Homo sapiens: one gene and its partners. The protein of the gene in region 3 purifies or fractionates together with the protein of the main gene of each other region. This does not show direct contact. Each region holds a gene or a part of one and is shown on either strand. Other genes may lie near its edges. The genes, in order: COPB2, RDH13, COPZ2, COPB1, ARCN1 and ZMPSTE24.

Evidence for each region.
Region 1: the proteins of COPZ2 (region 3) and COPB2 purify together in Homo sapiens (affinity purification with mass spectrometry; one large-scale study listed by BioGRID and IntAct). This does not show direct contact.
Region 2: the proteins of COPZ2 (region 3) and RDH13 purify together in Homo sapiens (affinity purification with mass spectrometry; one large-scale study listed by BioGRID and IntAct). This does not show direct contact.
Region 4: the proteins of COPZ2 (region 3) and COPB1 purify together in Homo sapiens (affinity purification with mass spectrometry; one large-scale study listed by BioGRID and IntAct). This does not show direct contact.
Region 5: the proteins of COPZ2 (region 3) and ARCN1 purify together in Homo sapiens (affinity purification with mass spectrometry; one large-scale study listed by BioGRID and IntAct). This does not show direct contact.
Region 6: the proteins of COPZ2 (region 3) and ZMPSTE24 purify together in Homo sapiens (affinity purification with mass spectrometry; one large-scale study listed by BioGRID and IntAct). This does not show direct contact.

What each region holds. Positions count from the first base shown.
Region 1 is NC_000003.12:139,369,148-139,372,647, forward strand, and holds part of COPB2 (coatomer subunit beta'), read right to left. Parts: intron 2,687-3,500; coding exon 2,576-2,686; intron 398-2,575; coding exon 309-397; intron 221-308; coding exon 114-220; intron 1-113. UniProt on the Homo sapiens protein: The coatomer is a cytosolic protein complex that binds to dilysine motifs and reversibly associates with Golgi non-clathrin-coated vesicles, which further mediate biosynthetic protein transport from the ER, via the Golgi up to the trans Golgi network.
Region 2 is NC_000019.10:55,046,149-55,049,648, forward strand, and holds part of RDH13 (retinol dehydrogenase 13 isoform 1 precursor), read right to left. Parts: intron 2,616-3,500; coding exon 2,511-2,615; intron 2,394-2,510; coding exon 2,181-2,393; intron 2,110-2,180; exon of another isoform or gene 1,898-2,109; intron 1,341-1,897; coding exon 1,239-1,340; exon of another isoform or gene 957-1,238; intron 1-956. UniProt on the Homo sapiens protein: Retinol dehydrogenase with a clear preference for NADP. Oxidizes all-trans-retinol, but seems to reduce all-trans-retinal with much higher efficiency. Has no activity toward steroids.
Region 3 is NC_000017.11:48,027,798-48,031,297, forward strand, and holds part of COPZ2 (coatomer subunit zeta-2), read right to left. Parts: intron 1,380-3,500; coding exon 1,328-1,379; intron 714-1,327; coding exon 675-713; intron 1-674. UniProt on the Homo sapiens protein: The coatomer is a cytosolic protein complex that binds to dilysine motifs and reversibly associates with Golgi non-clathrin-coated vesicles, which further mediate biosynthetic protein transport from the ER, via the Golgi up to the trans Golgi network.
Region 4 is NC_000011.10:14,493,312-14,496,811, reverse strand, and holds part of COPB1 (coatomer subunit beta), read left to right. Parts: intron 1-2,372; coding exon 2,373-2,602; intron 2,603-3,000; coding exon 3,001-3,170; intron 3,171-3,500. UniProt on the Homo sapiens protein: The coatomer is a cytosolic protein complex that binds to dilysine motifs and reversibly associates with Golgi non-clathrin-coated vesicles, which further mediate biosynthetic protein transport from the ER, via the Golgi up to the trans Golgi network.
Region 5 is NC_000011.10:118,589,409-118,592,908, reverse strand, and holds part of ARCN1 (coatomer subunit delta), read right to left. Parts: intron 2,569-3,500; coding exon 2,403-2,568; intron 201-2,402; coding exon 53-200; intron 1-52. UniProt on the Homo sapiens protein: Component of the coatomer, a cytosolic protein complex that binds to dilysine motifs and reversibly associates with Golgi non-clathrin-coated vesicles, which further mediate biosynthetic protein transport from the ER, via the Golgi up to the trans Golgi network.
Region 6 is NC_000001.11:40,271,736-40,275,235, reverse strand, and holds part of ZMPSTE24 (CAAX prenyl protease 1 homolog), read right to left. Parts: intron 3,343-3,500; coding exon 3,201-3,342; intron 1-3,200. UniProt on the Homo sapiens protein: Transmembrane metalloprotease whose catalytic activity is critical for processing lamin A/LMNA on the inner nuclear membrane and clearing clogged translocons on the endoplasmic reticulum.

The DNA of each region.
Region 1 (3,500 bases), on a different chromosome or scaffold from region 3:
TTTTGATAATCGAAGAGGGAGAGCAGGGTACAAAAGACACTTCTTGGCCTTAGGGACCCAGAACTCATCACAAAAATAAATATTCCAAAAACAACAATGGAGGGGAAACTCACATGTTTGGGCTGAATTTCAATTCTTCGTATGAGTTCTGTATTGTCCCAGTCATAGAAGGCTAAGCCATTTACAGATCTGACTCCCAATAAGAAGCCGCCGTAGATACCTAAAGGGAACATAAAAAGAGTTTTGCTTAGGCATTTTTGAGCCATTACAAAGAATTTAAAAATGTATCATATGTAGATCACACTCACTTTCTGCTCCAAAATCTGGTTTAAATGATTTTTTTTCCTTAAAGTTCTTAAATATCTTTACAATGCTGTTGCTCTCTCTTATTGCATACCTGGGAGAAAAAAGGGAAGGCAAACATAACATGTTATATACTAAATCATAGTTCTACCAAATGTTGGAAATATCTTCAAATATTTTTCAGTAATTATGCAAAAATATAAAATAAATATTTGAAGATTATCTGATGTACTGTTTTCCTAAGAGATCAGAGAACTCCTTACAGTTGGACAAATGATGAAAGGGTTTTATACTGTGTATGACATGAATTACTAGGGCTTACAAACCACTTTAGAAACTGAAAATGACCCAAATGTCCACAATAGGTGAATGATTAAACAAATTATCGTATATTCATATAATGGAATGCTACTCTGCAAATAAAGAAACCAATTACTGATCCAGGCAAGAATATGGATGAATCTCAAAAACATTATACTGAACAAAAGATGCTGGACTCAAGAGTACATACTGTATGATTCCATTTATATGAAACTCCAAAGACAACTCTAATCTATATAGTGACAAAAGGCACTCATCAGTGTTTGCCTGGGACTGGGGAATGGGTGGATGGGGGGTATGGACAGACTGTTAATGGAGACAAGGGGATTTTGCGGGGATGATAGAAATGTTCTATAATTTGATTGTGTTAGTAGTTACGGATTACATACATTTGCCCAAATCTACTGACATGAACAGTAGTCCTCCCTTATCCATGGGGGATACGTTCTAAGCCCCAATGGATGCCTGAAACCTCAGATAGTACTGAACCCTATATACACTATGTTTTTTCCTATAATGTAAGAGGTGGGCAGCATATACAATGTGGATATGCTAGACAAAGCGATGATTCACGTCCCAGGTAGGATGGCTCAAGATTTCACCATGCAACTCAGAACACTGGGCAATTTAAAACTTATGAGTTGTTTATTTCTGGACTTTTCCACTTAATATTTTTGGAACACAGTTGACTGTGGGTAACTAAAACTGCAGGAAGGGAAACCACAGATCGGGGGATCGCTGTACAATTAAGTGGTACATTCTGTCTTCTGTAAATTATACCTCAATAAGGGCGATTTAAATAATAAAAACTGTGACAAATGGTTCATTAATCAGCCATCATCAGCAACAACTGCTTATATTCAGGCCTCTGCCTTGAAAAAAGGAGCTGTGGCTATCACTGGATATTTAAGATTGTCTGAGGAAGTGATGTGATGAGGGCTTTGCTCAGGACAGGAAAGATGCTGAGCAAGGTCTTGGCTGGATAGAGCTGAAAAAAAGGACTATCAAAATAGAGGAAGAGGTGTGCTGAGAGAAGGCAATTCATCAACTATAATTTTGCTTAAGATAACACATTACCTTTGAATACATAGAACTGTATGTATATGTGTATTTAGGAAATTTATGAAAATATCAGAACAATTCCATACCTCTCAATAAATCTTACTGTTGTAACATTTTAAAAAATGTATCTTATTACACAACGCTGAGGCTTAAGTTACCCCACTGTTGGGGGCAAGATGCAACATAAAATGTGGGGCAAACAAAACTAAAAAAACTGTGAAAATGTAATTCAGTTGTGTGGTCTGAAAACACTAAACCCCTAATGTTTATTACGTGCATTAAACAGGAATCAAAAAGGAACCAGAGCCAATGACTAGTAAAAAAGTCAGAGTTAAATGATCTTTCCTGCTTTTAATGAGAACATTTTATGAACATTCTGAATTCAGACAGAAATTTGTTAAGAATGGGCAGTGGGTACTATCACAGAAAATAAGTTTTAAAAAAGATTTAATAAATTTCTCATCAAAATGATCAAACCACAACATCACTCCCAAGTAGCTCATAAAGGGGCAGTAGCACCTCAGGACACTACATCACAGGGAGGGCATGCCAAGGCCTGCCAAGGCAGACATGAGGGTCTACTGTGCCTTAAGCCCATAAAGCACCAGGTCCTGCCATGGGCTCCATCAAAGAAATGGGTGCTGGGTCCCCAGTTAAATGGAATTATTGTATCAGCTTGAGTGAGCCAGCCTAACGCAGAACAAAGAAAGCACTAAGACGGCTCATGCTATACACTCGCCTCTGACTCTCATCTTCCAATGGACAGCTCTGGTGAGAACTGTTTTTTAACACGGAGAATCACAGCCCACATCAAGCCTTGAGAGTCTTCAAGCAGCACACAACACATCTGCAATCAGGGCATGCTGGCTATCATACAATCAAAACTTACTCTGAAGAATCGTGGGCCCATGCAAACTCCTGAGCAGATCCAAAGCTCTTGTTTCTCAATGCCATTGCTGTGTAGATGATATACTCCCCATCACCACACACCACCACAAACCTAGAAATCACAGAAGCCAGGGAGGGAAGTACAGAGGACCAAAGACATGTAGAAGTTAAGGAACAATAATTCATGTTATGGTAAAAGAATTCTAATAACAAATGTTATTTAGTTCATTATTACAATTTAACATCTTTTAAAAGTTATACATTTCTTTGAATACAAAGTTACAAAAAAAATTCTAGCCAACAAATTGAAAAGGAAATTATGAATATGGCATTACTGCTGAAATGTTATTGGAATGGTCTTCTCATAAATAAAGGCAACTGGAGGCAGGAAGGTGAGAATGGCTGGAAATGCAAAGGAGGAGGATTCCAATTATTCAACCAGTATTTGTTGAGCACCAAGATGCCTAGAACTTTGCTCATGACATTTATACCACAGGAAGGCACTATATTATTACAAAGACTATCTTCATTTTAAAGCTGATCATTCAAATGAATAAAAATATCTCACTCCAGGTTTTAAAGACTTAAATTCAGCAAAATACAGAGGATATTTTAACATTTAAATAATGAGAAAACAGAATGCTGCAGAGTCAACGAAAATTTTCCCAATGGACATAAGACAACTATCTTTAAAGTTGTTTATAACACTGTAAAGGCTGGTATCAAAAGACTGCCAAAGGCAAAACTTACAGCCAAGAATGTTTTACGATATTAAGGGAAATATGCATAATGCATTCTTAACCTTTATAAGACAATTATATTACAAATAATTATGGATACCATTTACTGAACTAGGCGGCATACTTGGTTTATATCTTTTGTCTTTTTCAATACTCAGCACAGCATTATAAGATGCCCAGACCTGC
Region 2 (3,500 bases), on a different chromosome or scaffold from region 3:
AGACAGGAGAATCACTTGAACCGAGGAGGCAGAGGTTGGAGTGAGCCAAGATTGTGCCACTGCACTCCAGCCTGGGTGACGAGCAAAACTCCGTCTCAAAAAAAAAAAGACATTTATTTATTTATTTATTGAGACCTGGTGTCTTGCTCTGTCACCCAGGCTGGAGTGCAGTGGTGTGATCTCAGCTCACTGCAACCTCTGCCTCCCGGGTTCAAGCGATTCTCCTGCCTCAGCCTCCTGAGTAGCTGGGACTACAGGTGCACACCACCACACCTGGCTAATTTTTGTATTTTTAGTAGAGACGGGGTTTCACCATGGTGGCCAGGCTGGTCTCGAACTCCTGACCTGAGGTAATCCGCCCACCACAGCCTCCCAAAGTGCTGGGATTACAGGCGTGGCTATTAGCCTCGCCAAGTTAAGATTCTTGATGCCAACCAATCACCCACTCCATGTTTTTCAGGATTATAAACACTAGTCATAAAGCATGAACTGCCTGGGGGTGGTGGCTCACACCTGTAATCCCAGCACTTTGGGAGGCAGTTGGATCACCTGAGGTCAGGAGTTTGAGACTAGCCTGACCAATATGGTGAAACCCCACCTCTAGCTGGGTGTGGTGGTGTGCACCTGTAATCCCAGCTACTTGGAGACAGGAGAATCGCTTGAACCTGGGAGGTGGAAGTTGCAGTGAGTGGAGATCATGCCATTGTACTCCAGCCTGGGCGACAGAGCAAGACTTCATCTCAAAAATAAGTAAGTAAAGCTCCAACTGTTTGTTCCACCTATTCTCTGGGCGGGGTCCTGTGCTGGCCCTTTCAAGGAAGGTCTCGTATAACCCCCCCAGTGACTGTGAGGTGAGTCCTATTAAGGCCTGCACTCTGCAGATGAAGAAACAGGCTCAGAGGGGTAACAGCTCTTCCCCAGGAGGTGCAGCTGGTTTGGGGTGAAGCTGGAGTTACCCTGAGTACAGCCTGACTCCAGGCGTCAGCTCCACGGCCTCTTCCTCTGAGACACGGTTTTCTCATCCGCCAGCAGGGCTCTGCCTGCTTCCCGGGGCTGTTAGAGGCTGGCAGGCCAGGTCAACGGAGGAAAGGGACCTGTGCTCTGTGCCTCAGAAGACGTAGGCGAGGAGCAGGCATGAGGCCTCAGGGACGGTCTCTGAGGGAGGGTCCTGGGCCCTGGGCTGAGAAAGCAGGGGTGGAGGGCTCCACGTGGAGACCCCAGGCTGGGAGGGGACTCACCGAGTGTGGTGCTGGAGAAGGTGGAGCCATGGATGCCCGTGTGTCTGCCCAGCTCTGTCCTGGCCACGCCGGGGTGCAGGGCGTTGACAGTCACACCAGAGCCTGGGGAAGAAAGAAAGAGAAGACTGAGGGAGGGGTCCAGCCTCACCTGGGAGGCTGTGGCAGCCCACACCCAGCTGTGGGGCTTCCGGGCACCAGGCTGCTTCCTGCACTCAAACCCCATCGTCCCTCTTGCTCTGGAATCTTAGTGAAGTGGTCTTATCTTGCGGAGCGGCTCTGCCACATGGCTGCTGGGAGCCGAGCTTTCCTGGAGGGCTTCATAAACCCAGAACGCTGAGCTTACCCCGGGAGCCTGCATCGGTGCGTGGCGGTGGGACCTAAGATACTGTAACTCTGACCAGCTCCCAGTGGGGCTGGCACCGCTGGTCCACAGACCGTCTTTCAGAAGCAAAGGCCTAGCACAGATTTCTCAATCTCAGCACTGTGGATGCTGTGGGTTGGGAGGAGTGAGGGGCCATCCCGTGCGCTGTAGGACATTGAGAGCATCTGGGCCTTTACCCTCCAGATGCCCAGAGCAATCTCTCCCCAAGCCAGCTGTGATCACTGTGTTTCCAGGCATTGACAACTGCGGGTCAAAACTGCCCCTGGTTGAGACTCACTGGCTGGAGCCAAAAGGCTGAGCTGCCTGCCCAACAGCAGCAGGGAAGGACATCTGATCCAGGCAGACTAGACCACCTGGGATGAACAGACAATCCTCAGAAGAACGATCGATTAGTGATGTCTGCTTCAGGCACCAGAAGCGGGCAGCGTGGTCCACATGCTCTACTTTTGCTGACTCTGTTCTGGATCCACCGTTTGGCCTCCCATCAGCCTAGGATCATGGAAAGGCCGCTCTAGGCTCAGAGTAAAGCAAGAGGGAGGCCGAGCCTAGCGCCCCCGTACCTTGCAGCCGCCGGCTCAGCTCCTTGGTGAAGAGGACGATGGCGAGCTTGCTCTGGCAGTAGGCGGCTTTGGTGTTATACTTCCTCGTCTGCCAGTTCAAGTCGTCAAAGTCTATGTGCCCAGCAACATGGGCCAGGGACGAGAGGTTGATGATCCGCGAAGGGGCTGAGGCTTTCAGCTTGTCCAGCAGCAAGTTTGTCAAGAGAAAGTGACCTGGATTAAGGATGATGAAAAGGTCACTTTTGACTCACACCTAAAATCCCAGCACTTTGGGAGGACGACGGGGGAGGATCGCTTGAACCCATGGTGCAGCCCCTGCCCAGGCCTCACCCAGGTGGTTAACGCCAAACTGCATCTCGAAGCCGTCCTCGGTGGTCCAGTGGGGGCACCGCATCACACCCGCGTTGTTGATTAGAATGTCCACTCGCTCCTCCTCTGGAAGAGAGGGGTGGAGGAGGAGACATCCCGGTGAGGACAGACCCCAGCCTGATGCACCAGCAGAAACACTCCTGTGCTCCCACAACCTGTGAATGTGGCCTGTGCCGGAAACAGGGTCTGTGCCGAAGTGGCCATGTCAGGATGCGGTCATTAGGGTGAGCCCTAATCCAATGACTGGTGTCCTTATAGGAAGGGAAAACAGAGACAGAGACACATGGGGAGAAGGCCATGTGTGGACAGAGGCAAAGACCGGAGAGGCACAGCTCCAAGGTGAGGGTGGGCCGCCCCCGCTGGAAGTGGAAGAGGCTGGGAGGATTATGGCCCGTCTCACAGGTCACAGCCACAGGGACACCGCGATTCAGACTGCCGGCTTCCGGAACCGTGAGGGAATGCACGTCTGAGGGTGTAAGCCACTGGGTTTGCAGTACATTGTTACAGCAGCTCCAGGACACTCACACGCCCTCCGCACCTCCATCTAAGCCTTGGGACTCCTTCCTGCCGGAGCCCCGAGGCCAAAAACGGGAGGTTACCGGTGGGAGCCCCGGCACCGCAGGCGTGGTTTCATTCCCAAACCTGCCACCTCACTCATACAAGCAACCAAAGGACACACAGATGGAGACTGCAGCCTCAGTTTCCTCAGCTGTAAAATGCGCTGAACCACAGGGCCTTCCTCCCTGTACCACTCAGCTCGGGTTCCGTAACAAAGTGCCACAGACAGGTGGTTTAAAACCTCACAGACCTGGCCGGGCACAGTGGCTCACGCCTGTAATCCCAGCACTTTGGGAGGCCGAGGTGGGCAGATCACCTGAGGTCAGGAGTTTGAGACCAGCCTGGCCAACATGGAGAAACCGCGTCTTTACTAAAAATACAAAATTAGCCAGG
Region 3 (3,500 bases):
GGACAGAAGAGAGGTCAAGACAGTCGTCCTGAACTAGCAGGAAGTTTGTGCAGCTGGGGAACTGATCAGGCTTCAGAGCCAGGAACCTCCCCCTGGCCTTACGCTCTGCAAGCACCTCCAGATAAGACCATGCAGGGTTGTGGCAGGTTCTTCCATAGCCAGGTCACTCAGGGGTAAGGTGACAAGTGATGAGTGGGGAAAGTCAGATCCTATCATGGGTTTGAGAGTCCCTTAACAATCCCAGTGTGCACCCTAAGTGGCAAGGACAGGGGTTAAGAGCCAAACTCCTATTTGGTACCCTTTCCAGGTTTCGGTAGAGGGCGCATCAGAGGCCTGAGTTCCCAGATTTTTGGGGTGCACAAGTGACCCAGCCATCTCCAAGGTAGGCAGCTCATCCTAGTTTCAATCCAACTAAACCAAGCCAGGAGATGAGGTGGGCTGATGGTAACATGCCCATCCATCCATTAGTACCCAGCTCCCCTGAGTTGGAGAGCCCGGAGGCCTCCAGTGAGTCTTTCCAAGATATGACCTGTCACTGCCTCATCCCTTCCCTTCTCACCCCTGATTTTTCAGACTTGATAACTTCACTGGGTCCCCCTAGGATGCTCTAGGATGCTCTGCTCCCCGTATCTCTCTAGACCATTTCTAGCCAAGGCAGATGCAGGGGGGCCTACCTGGGCCACACTCTGTTCAGTCAAGCCGCCATCATCTGCCTGTAAGGAAGCAGAGTCAAGGGGTGGGGTAGGGCCAGCATGAGGGTCCTGGGTCAGGGAGGTGAAGGAAAGGGGCTTGGGGGTATGGGTGAGGTGGTGCAGTGGTTAGGGTGATTCAGAGCTGCACCTGTGTCACTGGTTAATAGAAGTCCTGCAGCCTGTCATTTGGAAGCCAGGACCTCTGGGATTGTGCTATGGTGCGTGGAGGGTGAGGGAAGATGGGAAGAAAGATGGGAAGAAAGGTTTCATCCAGACATGAGAAAGCCAAACAAGGCAGGGAGGTTCTATCCATACCCCTGACCCCCAACCTCAAGGCCAAGGCAGCCACCTAGTGCCTCTTTGAAGATGTATTTATTTCCCCAGTCTATACTTCCTACCAGGAAAGAGGTGAGGTACTTGTGCTCCTAGCCGGGGAGAGGACAGGAAGATTTCTTCCATTAACTGGCATCCCACCCAGAAACTGCTGCTCATCTCACCCCTAACAAGTGTGTCAGCCCAGTGGTTGGCTTCTGCTAGAGGAGCTTGGGCTTCTACCATCTAGGCCCTAGCAGCCCTATTCCCAGGGAGGACAGGAAGGGCAGCCTAAAAGAGGAGGTGTCCAGGAAGACTCTTACCCTAAAATTCACCTTCTGGATCACTTGCTGGGGGTCACTCTCCAGAATCACACTACAAGATGAGAGGAAAAACCAGGAGGCAAATCAGTGGCACAATCCTCCCCTCCGCCCCTTCTCCTTGCCAAGCCTCTTCCCTCTCCGAAGGCATCCTGCAACATCTCCACCTTCCAGGTCCCTTCCCACTGATAGCCCTCAAGTCAGAACTCTCCCTCAGCATGGAGAGCCCTCAGCTCTGATTCTTTGATGCTTCAACCCAGTGGTCCACATGCTTTGTCATCCCTGGGCAAAATCTTTGAAACTGGATAAGAACAGTCTGGTCTAGGATGATCAGGTTGTCAAAAGCAGGGACTCTCAAAACTCAGAGCTCTTGAAAGTTCACTTCACTTTCTGGGTATAGGATTGGATTCCCTGTGAAAAGAGTTAGGAAGAGAGGCCCTGGGGGTTCTTATCTTGTTGCACTGTTATTTTATGGCATGGGGTCATGCCCTGCATAAAAGAAATGAAACTCCAAAAATCAGCATCTACCTTCTCCCCTACTTCCTCCCTTTTTTTTTTTTTTTAAGGCTGGGCACGGTGGCTCATGCCTGTAATCCCAGCACTTTGGGAGGCCGAGGCGGGTGGATCACCTGAGGTCAGGAGTTCCAGACCAGCCTGGCCAACATGGCGAAACCCTGTCTCTAGTAAAAGTACAAAAATCAGCCAGGCATGGTGGCACACATTGTAATTCCAGCTAATTGGGAGGGTGAGGCAGGAGAATCGCTTCAACCCGGGAGGCAGAGGTTGCAGTGAGCCAAGATTGCGCCACTGCACTCCAGCCTGGGCATCACAGTGAGACTCTGTCTAAAAAAAAAAAATTTTTTTTTTAAATCTTCCCTTTTAGGCCAGGCACAGTGGCTCACGCCTGCAATCCTAGCACTTTGGGAGGCTAAGGTGGGAGGATCACAAGGTGAAGAGTTCGAGACCAGCCTGGCCAATATGGTGAAACCCCGTCTTTACTGAAAATACAAAAAAAATTAGCCGGTAATGGTGGCGCACGCCTATAATCCCAGCTACTCGGGAGGCTGAGGCAGGAGAATTGCTTGAACCCAGGAGGCAGAGGTTGCAGTGAGCCAAGATCACGCCACTGCACTCCAGCCTGGGCGACAGAGTGAGACTCCATCTCAAAACACACACACACACACACACACACACACACACACACACACAAAGAAACAAACAAAAAAATTCCCTTTTGATAGACCCAAATATTGTAGCTTTTCTCAGAGAGCAGGCGCTCCTTCGTGAGGCCTTGGGGTTATGTACAGGGTACATGGGCGTGAGGGCCTGTCACTGCGGCAGGACAAAGATGACAGGATCTGAGTGTACCTCCTTACCCACTGAGACTCCTCCAAGGCAGAAGCTTTGTTTCTCTTTGTTACTAAATCACTGGAAATGACAAACATTTCTTGGGAGCCTCTTCCAGTCCCCATCCTTGGGCTGAGCACCCCCTGTCCCAAGCTCCCTAACCAGGGGTCCTGTAATCCATAAAGAAAGAGCATCCCAGGCCAAGGCTCCAGTTTAGGCGTTGCCTCCCGACTGGCGCTTCCCCAGTTTTTCTTGGCAGGAAACTGAGTTCCTCAGAGGCAGAGACGGGAAGCTTGTGAAGCTTACACCTCAGGCATCCTCCTTTGCACAGCCATCCAGAGCCCTGCATCTTGTTTTGCATTTATAGTTTTGTGTGTGTTTGTGTAAAGTTTTCCTTCAAGAGGGTTCACCAAATTGTATATGCTTCTGGCTCCCCAAAACCTGGCGTTACCCCACTCCCTTTTGGGTCCCAGAAATCTGCAGGAGGCATTCCTTAGTGCCCCAGGCAGTCCAGTACAGTGCCATAGAAACAGCATGGCCTCTGGAACTATTCACATGGTTTTAGATCTTGGCCCTGCCACTCCCTAGCTGTGTGAGAGACCTCCGGCGTGTCACTTGAAACTTTGAGCCTGTTTCCTAATGTATAAAATGATGTAATGATAGAGGGATGTATGTTTTTAAGGAGCTCAAGAAATTTCTATTGGCCGGGGATGGTGGCTCACACCTGTAATCCCAGCACTTTGGGAGGCTGAGGTGGGCGGATCACGAGGTCAGGAGATCGAGACCATCCTGGCTAACATGGTGAAACCCCGTCTCTACTAAAAATACA
Region 4 (3,500 bases), on a different chromosome or scaffold from region 3:
AGCTATGTAGGATAATTTGATGTCAAGTAATGTGATTCCTTCAGTTTTGTTCTTTTTGCTTAGGATAGCTTTGGCTATTCTGGGTCTTTTGTGGTTCCATATAAATTTTAGGATTTTTTTTTTTTTTCTGTGAAGAATGTCATTGGTATTTTGATGGGAATTGCATTGACTCTAGATTGCTTTGGGTGGTATGGACATTTTAACAATACTGATTCTTCTAATCCATGATCATGGAATATCTTTCCATTTGTTGATGTTCTCTTCAATTTCTTTCATCAGTATTTATAGTTTTCATTGTAGAAATCTTTCATTTATTTGGTTAAATTAATTCCTAGGTATCTAATTTTATCTGTGGGTATTGTAAATGGGATTAGATTACTTCTTCAATTTCTTTTTCAGATTGTTCACTGTTGTCATATAGAAATGCTACTGATTTTTGTATGTTGATTTTGTGTCCTGGAACTTTACTAAATTTATCATATTTCTGAATTTTAAAAATGTATACCGTGTCTCCTTTTTGTGAGTGATTCTGTCAAGAAAAAAAAAATTTATAATTAATATGCTTTCCAAAGTAATGATTCTTGTTTAATTGAACTGCTAAAAATAAATACAACTTAAACTGATAAATATTGTTTAAACAGAGCAGAGTGAAAATTATGCTTCAAATATAGAAAGGATCTTTTAGAAGATAGTTTGCAGTTTGAAAAGAAACTTAATATTTTACTTGCCTATTCCCACTTCTTAATCAGCAGTAATGGAATACCTCCTGATTCTAGGTTACTTAATACTAGGTTTCTATTGAGGTCTATTTTTAGAGAAGGGAAAAGAAACCCAGTTTTATGATATTTAAAATGATACCATTATATACATAAGCCACATATATTTCCCTTTTTTCATGTTCATGTAGGATAGTTGAATGCAAAATAGTGAATACATTCATTAGTGTTTTTCCTCATAATTTAAAAATTTTCATTGTTAGATCCTCAGGATACCTAAGGTTATAGCTAGGAAGGTAAAGAATAAAATCTGCCCTTAGTTGGAACAATGCCCTAGTCTTAATTGAAGCTGCCTTAGCTACCTTCCTCCAACCAATAAATAAATACATACTCTCCAGTTTAATGTATATTTTTGCCATTAAGAAGAGTTGAGACTGGGCATGGTGGCTCATGCCTGTAATCCCAGCACTTTGGGAAGCTGAGGCAGGTGGATCACTTGACTTCAGGAGTTCGAGACCAGCGTGGCCAACATGGCGAAACCCCATCTCTAGTAAAAATACAAAAATTTTAAGTGGCTATTAAATGAAGAGTTCTGTGGGCCAGATGAACCACCGCATCTGACGCTCAGAACTCTGTTTCATAGCCGCTTAGCTCTAATCATTAGAAATGTATTTCTCATATTTAGGCCCAAATCTGGTTCCCGGTAACTACTACCCATTAGTTGTAGTTCTTTTCCTCATAATGGCCCTAAGGTTATTGAAGACTTGTAATCATTCTTTGTTCTCCCCTTCCCAAGATAATTCATTTATTTTGATGATCTAAACAGTTGTAGTACAGTGTGCTACTACATACTTCTCTGCCTTTGAGTTTTGGATCCAGAAGATTTTTAGTACTATAAATTCTTCAGTATGCAATGATAATGGTGTGAAATTTTAGATAGTTTTGCGTAAAATACTTTATGTTGCAGAGTTTTTAGGCTAAATAACAGTAAACTAGCATTTTATCTTTAATGTGTCATCCTTAATTCTAAATAATGACTACTAATCTAGAACATTTGAATTACCTCCCAGTTTTCCAGATGATATCTTAAGAAAGATTCTAAAGTTTTACAGCCTGCCTGCAGAACTATGATGAGATTTTAGAAATAATCCACTACTTTAGTTTTCAGCCTTTTTGAGTATGACGTTTCTCTTTCTAATGTTAAAAAAGTTACATATTTATCCTCCCATAATAGTAGTTTTAACTTTGTTAAAATGCACACAAATAGCTAAAAGCTGTTTTGAATTCAAAATCAATTAATAGTATGTATTTACATTTTGAAAAATAGCTATATGTGTTTTGAAACACGTTTACTTGGTATGACTGTAGATTCATGGAGCCTGCATTAACTCAATTGGTTAGGAACCAGAAATCTAATCCAGCGCCTTCATATTATATATAAAGAGTCTGATTTCCAGAGATAAATGACTTGAGCAAAGACAGATTATTTGGTGGAGAACCAGGTGGAGAACCTTGTCACTTGGGTTTGTACTTTTATTACCATTGCTGATACTGAAGTAAGAAGGTACATTTTATTTTGTTAATTGCTTTTAAATTTATGTGATGAATTTTCTTTTGAAATAATTGTGCTTTTTTTTAAAAAAATTTTTGATTCAGAAAAAGGAGATGTAAAGTCAAAGACTGAAGCTTTGAAGAAAGTAATCATTATGATTCTGAATGGTGAAAAACTTCCTGGACTTCTGATGACCATCATTCGTTTTGTGCTACCTCTTCAGGATCACACTATCAAGAAATTACTTCTGGTATTTTGGGAAATTGTTCCTAAAACAACTCCAGATGGGAGACTTTTACATGAGATGATCCTTGTATGTGATGCATACAGAAAGGTAAACCAAATCATAATTATTTCTGAATATTGCTTTGAATTTAAATGTAAAATTGGTAGAATGGGCTGTGTTTTAATTGTTAAAATTGAGTCTTTGATAAGATGTAAGTTGTAGAGATTTGGAATTGTAAAAGAGTTATTTTTAAAAGTTTTATTGTCACTTTTCAGACATTTTCTATGCATTTTATGTGTATATATTAATTAAAAAACAGTGACACACATATAAGACATTGATGAGATAGGTAAAAATTGCTTCAGTCAACAAGAATATGATGGAAATTGTCGGTAATCTAGGTTTTTTCTCAAACGTATTTTTTTTCCATTGGAAAGTTTTGCATTAAAATTTTCTTTTTGTAAAAAGCTGAAACTCAGCATTTCATATTTTAATTTTTATATCAGGATCTTCAACATCCTAATGAATTTATTCGAGGATCTACTCTTCGTTTTCTTTGCAAATTGAAAGAAGCAGAATTGCTAGAACCTTTAATGCCAGCTATTCGTGCATGTTTGGAGCATCGACACAGCTATGTTAGAAGAAATGCTGTTTTGGCCATCTATACCATCTATAGGTAAATAAAGATACTGCTTTGGCTTCATTCTGTGAGTACTGTTTAGTCTTTTAGACTAGTGGTTCCAAAGTGGTTGCTTGCAGACTGAATATAGCTTGAAGATATATTTTGTATGGCCAGCACTGTATTTTTTATTATGAACATTGAAAAGTCAAAAGATCTGGCAGCGCTGTTCCTAGCTTCCACAAGACAACATTCTGCTGAACTTGTATAACAGTAACCCCCTTTAAATAAGTTATATACTTTACAGTTTATGACAGTGCTTGTCATTCTCAACCGTATTACTCCAAGCCACTTTATATGTTCACTTGCTTAGCCTCTATAGGCTTT
Region 5 (3,500 bases), on a different chromosome or scaffold from region 3:
TTTCTAGTTCTCAATGCAAACTAGCTTAGTGGGACTGGCCAGAGGCACTTACTTGTCAGTGGAATAAAAGATTCCTCTGTGGTTTGTAGTCTCCACTTTAGCACCCCTACGTCACTGTTGACTGGAAATGACTTCTCTGGATTCTTCAGGCCAATTAGAGACTCTGCAGTGAAAAGTTTTTTATCCACATTTGGATGGGTCTAGAATGAGAGGGAAAGGAAAACTCCTGAGGTTCAGATAGACGAGAAACAACCCCTCACTAGGCTTATATGGCCCACAATCTAAACATCCAAAATAGAGTACCTAACAAATTCCAATTCTTTTTCATTTTGAAGAAAGATTTCCCTTCTTCAAAGACTTATTTTAAAATGATTTAAGATACTTAAAAACTAGTAATTTTTTAAAAAAAAAGCTAATTTCAACTCTAAAAGCCATTACAGAACAAGTTTGCACCTGAAAAAGTTAAAAGACTATTAACCAAGTTCTTTCCAAAAATACTTCACAGGGAGCAGGTTCATGGTGGGGCCAGGTTTGCCAAGCAGAAGGCTCCAGTAAGACCCTGATCAGCTGCCTGGGTCAGACAGCAGTTCTGGCCTTATATAAAGTAGCAGAAAAGGGCAAGCTCTGTGTAAAGTCTAGTTGCAATTTTGCCTAGAGACTTAAAGTTGTTAAAATCCAAGCCAATTAAGATAGTCTTATCTTTTTAAAAGAAATTGCTTTTGGGGAGGCTGAGGTGAGAGGGGCATTGAAGGTCAGGAGTTTGACATCAGCCTGGCCAACATGGCAAAACCCTATCTCTATTAAAAATACAAAAGTTAGCTGGGGCTGGACATGGTGGCGCACGCCTGTAATCCCACCTACTCGAGAGGCTGAGGCAGGAGAATGGCTTGAACCCGGGAGGCAGAGGTTGCGGTGAGCCGAGATCACACCATTGCACTCCAACCTGGGCAGGAAGAGTGAAACTCCGTCTCAAAAAATAAAAAATAAATAAATAAATAAATAAATAAATAGCTGGGTGTGGTGGTGCACACCTATAGTTCCAGCTACTATGGAGGCTGAAGAGGAAGCATTGCTTGAGCCTAGGAGGTTAAGGCTGCAGCGAGCCAAGGTTGTGCTGCTGCACTCCAGCCCGCATGACAGAGAGAGACTGTGCAAAAACAAAAAAAAAAACAAAAAAAAGAACAAAAAAACAAGACAAAAACAAAAAAAACCCAGAAGGGCTGGGCATGGTGGCTCATGACTACAATCCCAACACTTTGGGATGATGAGGTGGGCGAATCATGAGGTCAAGAGTTCGAGACCAGCTTGGCCAACATGGTGAAACCCCATCTTTACTAAAAATAAAAAAAATTAGCTGGGCATGGTGGCAGGTGCCTGTAATCCCAGCTACTCAGCAGGCTGAGGCAGGAGAACTGCTTCAACTGGGGAGGCAGAAGTTGCAGTGAACCAAGATCGTACCACAGAACTCCAGCTTGGGCAACAGAGAGAGACTCCATCTCAGGAAAACAAAACAAAACAAAACAAAACAGAAATCACTTTTGGATAGCACTTTACAAGCCAGCAAAAATGTCAAATAATATAAGCACTGCTTCCAAAAGACAATTCTGTGCTGACTACGGTGGGGAAAGTAGACAAAAACACTCTTCCGTAAAAAGGCTTTGTTCTTGTGACGAGATGTCGGCTAAATGAAATGAAATTACAAGAACACCTGTAACATAAAGCAGGGCTTATATATATCTATCCAATAGTTGGAACACACACACTTATATTGAAAGGATTTTATGTACTTTTCAAATACACCATTAGATACTGCCCTTCAGTTAACAAAACAAGCACTGGCAGTTTATTTAATAGCAGAATGAGTAAATTTCGCATTGTGCCACCACGCCTGGCTAATTTTTTAAGTTTTTGTAGAGATAGGGTCTTGTTGCTCAGCCCTCATTGCTCAGGCTGTTCTTGAACTCCTGGGCTCAAGCGATCCTTCAGCCTCAGCCTCTCAGAGTGCTGGTATTATAGGCATGAGCCACCACACTTGGCCTAAAGCCTTGTTTTTTTAAAACTGTATTTCAAGCAAGATCCTAAGTGATTAATTTACTGTTTTCATAACAGCAAAAGACAAACACCTCCTTGTACCTTTTATTGGTGAGTATGAAGTCATTTATTAGATTTCGAAATGACCTTTTATTCAATTCCAATATTTAAAAGCCATCCTTACACAGCTGCTTTACTCACTCTCAGGTAGCTACTGTATGCAATATATTAACTTCTTTCCTAAGCGTTTAGAGTGATGCTAGTTATATAACTTAAGTAATTTTCTGTGGTTCATATTGGGAACTCTAGTTGAGAAAGACTATAATAGGTAGACAAAGTGTTAATACTCCCTATCAAAAGCTTCTACACACCTGTAGCTGCACCCCTTTCTTATCTTCATTTTCCACATGAAGACGAATTCGGCCATACTTGTCATCTGAGATCCTAAGCATGATCATGCCATGCAACTCCATATTCTGTAATCCTCCGTCTCGTCCACAGGTTAATGTTATCTTTTCTTCAATCTTCATATGTACACTATAAAGAGAAAGTAATACATTTGTTCAGAAAGGTAGAAACCAATGGCCGGGCGTGGTGGCTCATGCCTATAACCCCAGCACTTTGGGAGGCCAAGGCGGGCAGATCACCTGAGGTGGGGAGTTCGAGACCAGCCTGACCAACATGGAGAAACCCCGTCTCTACTAAAAATACAAAATTAGCCAGGCGTGGTGGTGCATGCCTGTAGTCCCAGCTACTTGGGAGGCTAAGGCAGGAGAATCGCTTGAACCACGAGGCAGAGGCTGTGGTGAGCCGAGATTGTCCCACTGCACTCCAGCCTGGGCAACAAGAGTGAAACTCTGTCTCAAAAAATAAAAAAGAAAAGAAAAGAAAAAAGAAAGGTAGAAATCAGAACTCCCTTTCTCCAAGGTCTAATGATTAGCCATCAACAACGTTTTTTTAAAGGTGCTACTGCTATAGCTATCAACATTTAAAAGGCGATACCCTTTGATACAGCAATTCTTCAACAGACTCTATCCTACAGATAAATTCTCACCTGTGCAAAACAATCTGCTAAGTTATTCACTGAAGAATTGTTTGTAATGGCAAAAGTTTAGAAACATGTCTGCCAATAGGGGGCTGCTCAAATAAAGGCATATTCACGGGCGTGGTGGCTCACGCCTGTAATCCCAGCACTTTGGGAGGCCAAGGCGGGTAGATCACGAGGTCAGAAGATCGAGACCATCCTGGCTAACATGGTGAAACCCCACCTCTACTAAAAATACAAAAACAAAATTAGCCGGGTGTGGTGACGGGCGCCTACTCAGGAGGCTGAGGTGGGAGAATGACGTGAACTCAGGAGGCGGAGCTTGCAGTGAGCCGAGATGGTGCCACTGCACTCCAGCCTGGGCAACAGAGTGAGACTCTGTCTCAAAAAAATAAAAAATAAAAAATAAAGGCATATCCACCCG
Region 6 (3,500 bases), on a different chromosome or scaffold from region 3:
GTTGGCCAGGCTTGTCTCGAATTTCTGACCTCAAGTGATCCGCCCACCTCGGCCTCCCCAAGTGCTGAGATTACAAGCATAAGCCACTGCGCCTGGTCCAAATAGTGCTTCAATAAGCAGTTTTTCTGCTTAAATCAGCCACAGTTGGTTTCTATTGCTTGCAGAATTCTAATACAATGTTTAGTAGGTTCCTCAATATGTAATATAGCCATTAGAAGTCTTAATTCCCCACAAACCTACTCTTCTCCTATTTTTTTCCATCTCAGGAAACTACCATATATCTAACTGCTCAGGTCAAAAGTCTAGGCCATTATCTTTGATGTCACTCTTTCCCTTATTCTCCCAATGCAATCAATTAGAAAATTCAATCAACTCTACCCTAAAACTTGTCCCAAATGTATCCACTTCTCTCCATTAATTACTATTATCCTAGTCTAAGCTACCATTATGTCCTACCTAGACTTTTGCCTGTCTCTACAACATATTCTCCATACAGTAGCCCAGGATATTTTAAAAACACAAAGCAGATCATGTCACTTTCCTGTCTAAGCCTTCAATGGCTCTTCCCACTGAACTCAAAATCCAAACTCCTTACCCTGACTTACAAAGGCCTATGTGGACTGATTCTTGCCTATGTCTCAGATTTCATCTCCTAACACTCTCCTGCTATGGTGCAGCCACACTGGACTTCTTCATGGTCCTTGAACATCTTCCCATTGACGTCAAATGGGCGGCTCCTCCCTTTAGGTCTCAGCTCAATCTGATGACCAATCTACAGTATCAACTTATCAGACCAAACTAGTTTAATTTGCTGCATAGCACTTGCTATCTGATAATATTTTGAGAGCAAGATTCTTGGCTTTTCACTACAATCTCCCTACCAATTTACAAATATGTAATGTGTGTTGTTATTGTCAGCAACAACATTCATTCATTCAAAATATTTTTGAGAATTGTTACTGTTGTTAACAACAATTAAAACATACATTATAGGTGAGTAAACTGCTGTTTGGCAAAGCTAAGTTGCGCAAAGTCACACAAGTAGTTTGTCTCGAACTCCTGACCTTCCACCTCAGCCTCCCCAGTAGATGGGATTACAGGCTGGAGCCACCAAGCCCAGCACTGGTAATCTGTGGTAGAGCTATGATTCAAACCCAAGCCTTTTGACCCTGAAGCCTGACGTCTGAAATGCTGCCCCCAACCTACTCAAATCTTGACTTCCCATTAACACCCAGCTCAGGTCATAACCTTCCATAAAGCCTTCCCTGACTATTTTATCTAAAATGAAAATAGCTCTCATACTCTGGATGTTGTAGGGGGAAAAAAAAAGATAAAAAGAAAATAGCACCGATATATTTCACATATTCTATTGACTACCTCCACTGTCATAGCATTAACTATTATTTCACGTTATCTGATTGTAACTTAAGGGATCAGCAACTTAGGTTGCTCCTTCAGTAAAAGCAGCTTAGAGACTATTCTGTTGTACTGATTAATGATTAAATTTCTAGTTTAATATTACCTAAAAAAAAAAGAGTAGTTATTTCAGAGGCTAAAGAAGTAAGTATGAACTGGCTTATTCTACCATTTCTCCACAGACTTTTAAGCTACTCCAATCGTGCCTTTAGTTGGGCTGTATATCCTCAGGAGCCACTAAATGTCTGACATATATATATATATATATATATATATATATATTTTTTTTTTTTTTTTTTTTTTAGACAGAATTTGGCTCTTGTTGCCCAGGCTAGAGTGCAATGGCTTGATCTTGGCTCACCACAACCTCCACCTCCAGGTTCAAGCGATTCTCCTGCCTCAGCCTCCCAAGTAGCTGGGATTACAGGCACGCACCACCACGCCCAGCTAATTTTTTGTATTTTAGTAAAGACAGGGTTTCACCATGTTGGCCAGGCTGGTCTCGAACGCCTGACCTCAGGTGATCCGCCTGCCTTGGCCTCCCAAAGTGCTGGGATTACAGGCGTGAGCCACAGCGCCCAGCCAGATGTCTGAAATTTCTATGTTCTTCCAGTTGCTGTTGATTCATTCTTTTCAGTTGTGACCATCTCTGTTCTCCTCTAACCCTGTGATTGTTTCTGCTTCTATTCCTTCATCTAACACTGCTGCTTCTCACTGGTAATATTTTATTTTAGAGCAGGGATCAGCAAACTGTAGCTCACAGGCCAAATCCAATCTGCCATTTATTTTCATAAAGTTTTATTGGAACACAGCCACACTCATTTGTTTAGTATTGTCTATGGCTGCTTTTGCGCTATAATAGTAGCACTGAATAGTTGCAACAGAGAACAAGTGGCCCGCAAAGCTAAAATATTTACTATCTAGCCCTTTACAAAAAACATTTGTGAAACCATAGCTTAGAGGAAATACAACTGAAACCCAGAAGGGTGAAGTCACTTGTCCAAGATCCTATAACTGGTAAGTGGCAGGAACAGAACTATTACATTCATTTATATGGACTTTATAAATTCTGAAAGTCATAGAACCTTACAACAGTTTCTCTCTACATCTCCGTAGTCTTCTTTGAGACTTTAATAGTCAACTACCAAAGTCTCAAAGAAAGTAATAGACTGGGTGTTAATGGGAAGTCAAGATTTGAGTAACGGTCAAGAGACCACTTAAATCTCAAAAGTAATCATCAAAAAAGCAGAGTATAACAAATCTGCAGTACTCAGTGGTACTGCAGTCTTTGGTAATCAATCTTCAGGTGAGTCCTCCAGAACACTGGATATTTTCTTGGAGGAGACAAGGCCAATAACACTGGCTTTGTTTAAGAGCCTCCAAACTAATACTAAACAGAATTTGACTATTCAAGAGTCCAACTTAACTACCTAAAAGAACTAGGCAGATAACAGAAGTGAATAAATCAGTCTAATATATAAGATAACATAACAGAGAGTGAAAAAGCCTTGGCCAAAAATTTAAAACAATACTGTAAAACCAAACAAACATAGCTGCAGACAAGAGCAGGATTTGGTATCAAGCCACCAGTTTCTATCCCTGGCCTATGTTATCAATTTCTGTAAATCTTAAAAAGCCAAAAGGTAAACTCCTAGCCTTTAAATAACAAATTTTAAAAAGAAAAAAACAAAAACTGATTAATTCTTTTATTAAAATTTTAAGAATAAAGTATCAAATAAAACAAACCACTTGGATAAAACTTTCTTATCCCCAGGTAGCCTTACCTTCCACAACATACACCTTCGTCAAAGGAAAGTCAATACTCTTTGCCATTACTTCAATTTCTTCTTTAAGCTTTCCCTCAGGCAGAGGTGTGAATTTGTCAAATAAAGGGGCAATATAATCAGCATAGATTGTGACAAGAACCTGAAAAGTAAATGTCAGAATAACATATGAACATGTTCTTAAAGAAAAAACATTCTTTATTATACAGATTAAATTATATTAAAACAACTATGTTGACCTCAAACTTGAGAACAAGGAACTTACTTGCTCTGGTATTCCCAGGCCCAAATAGTACCAGA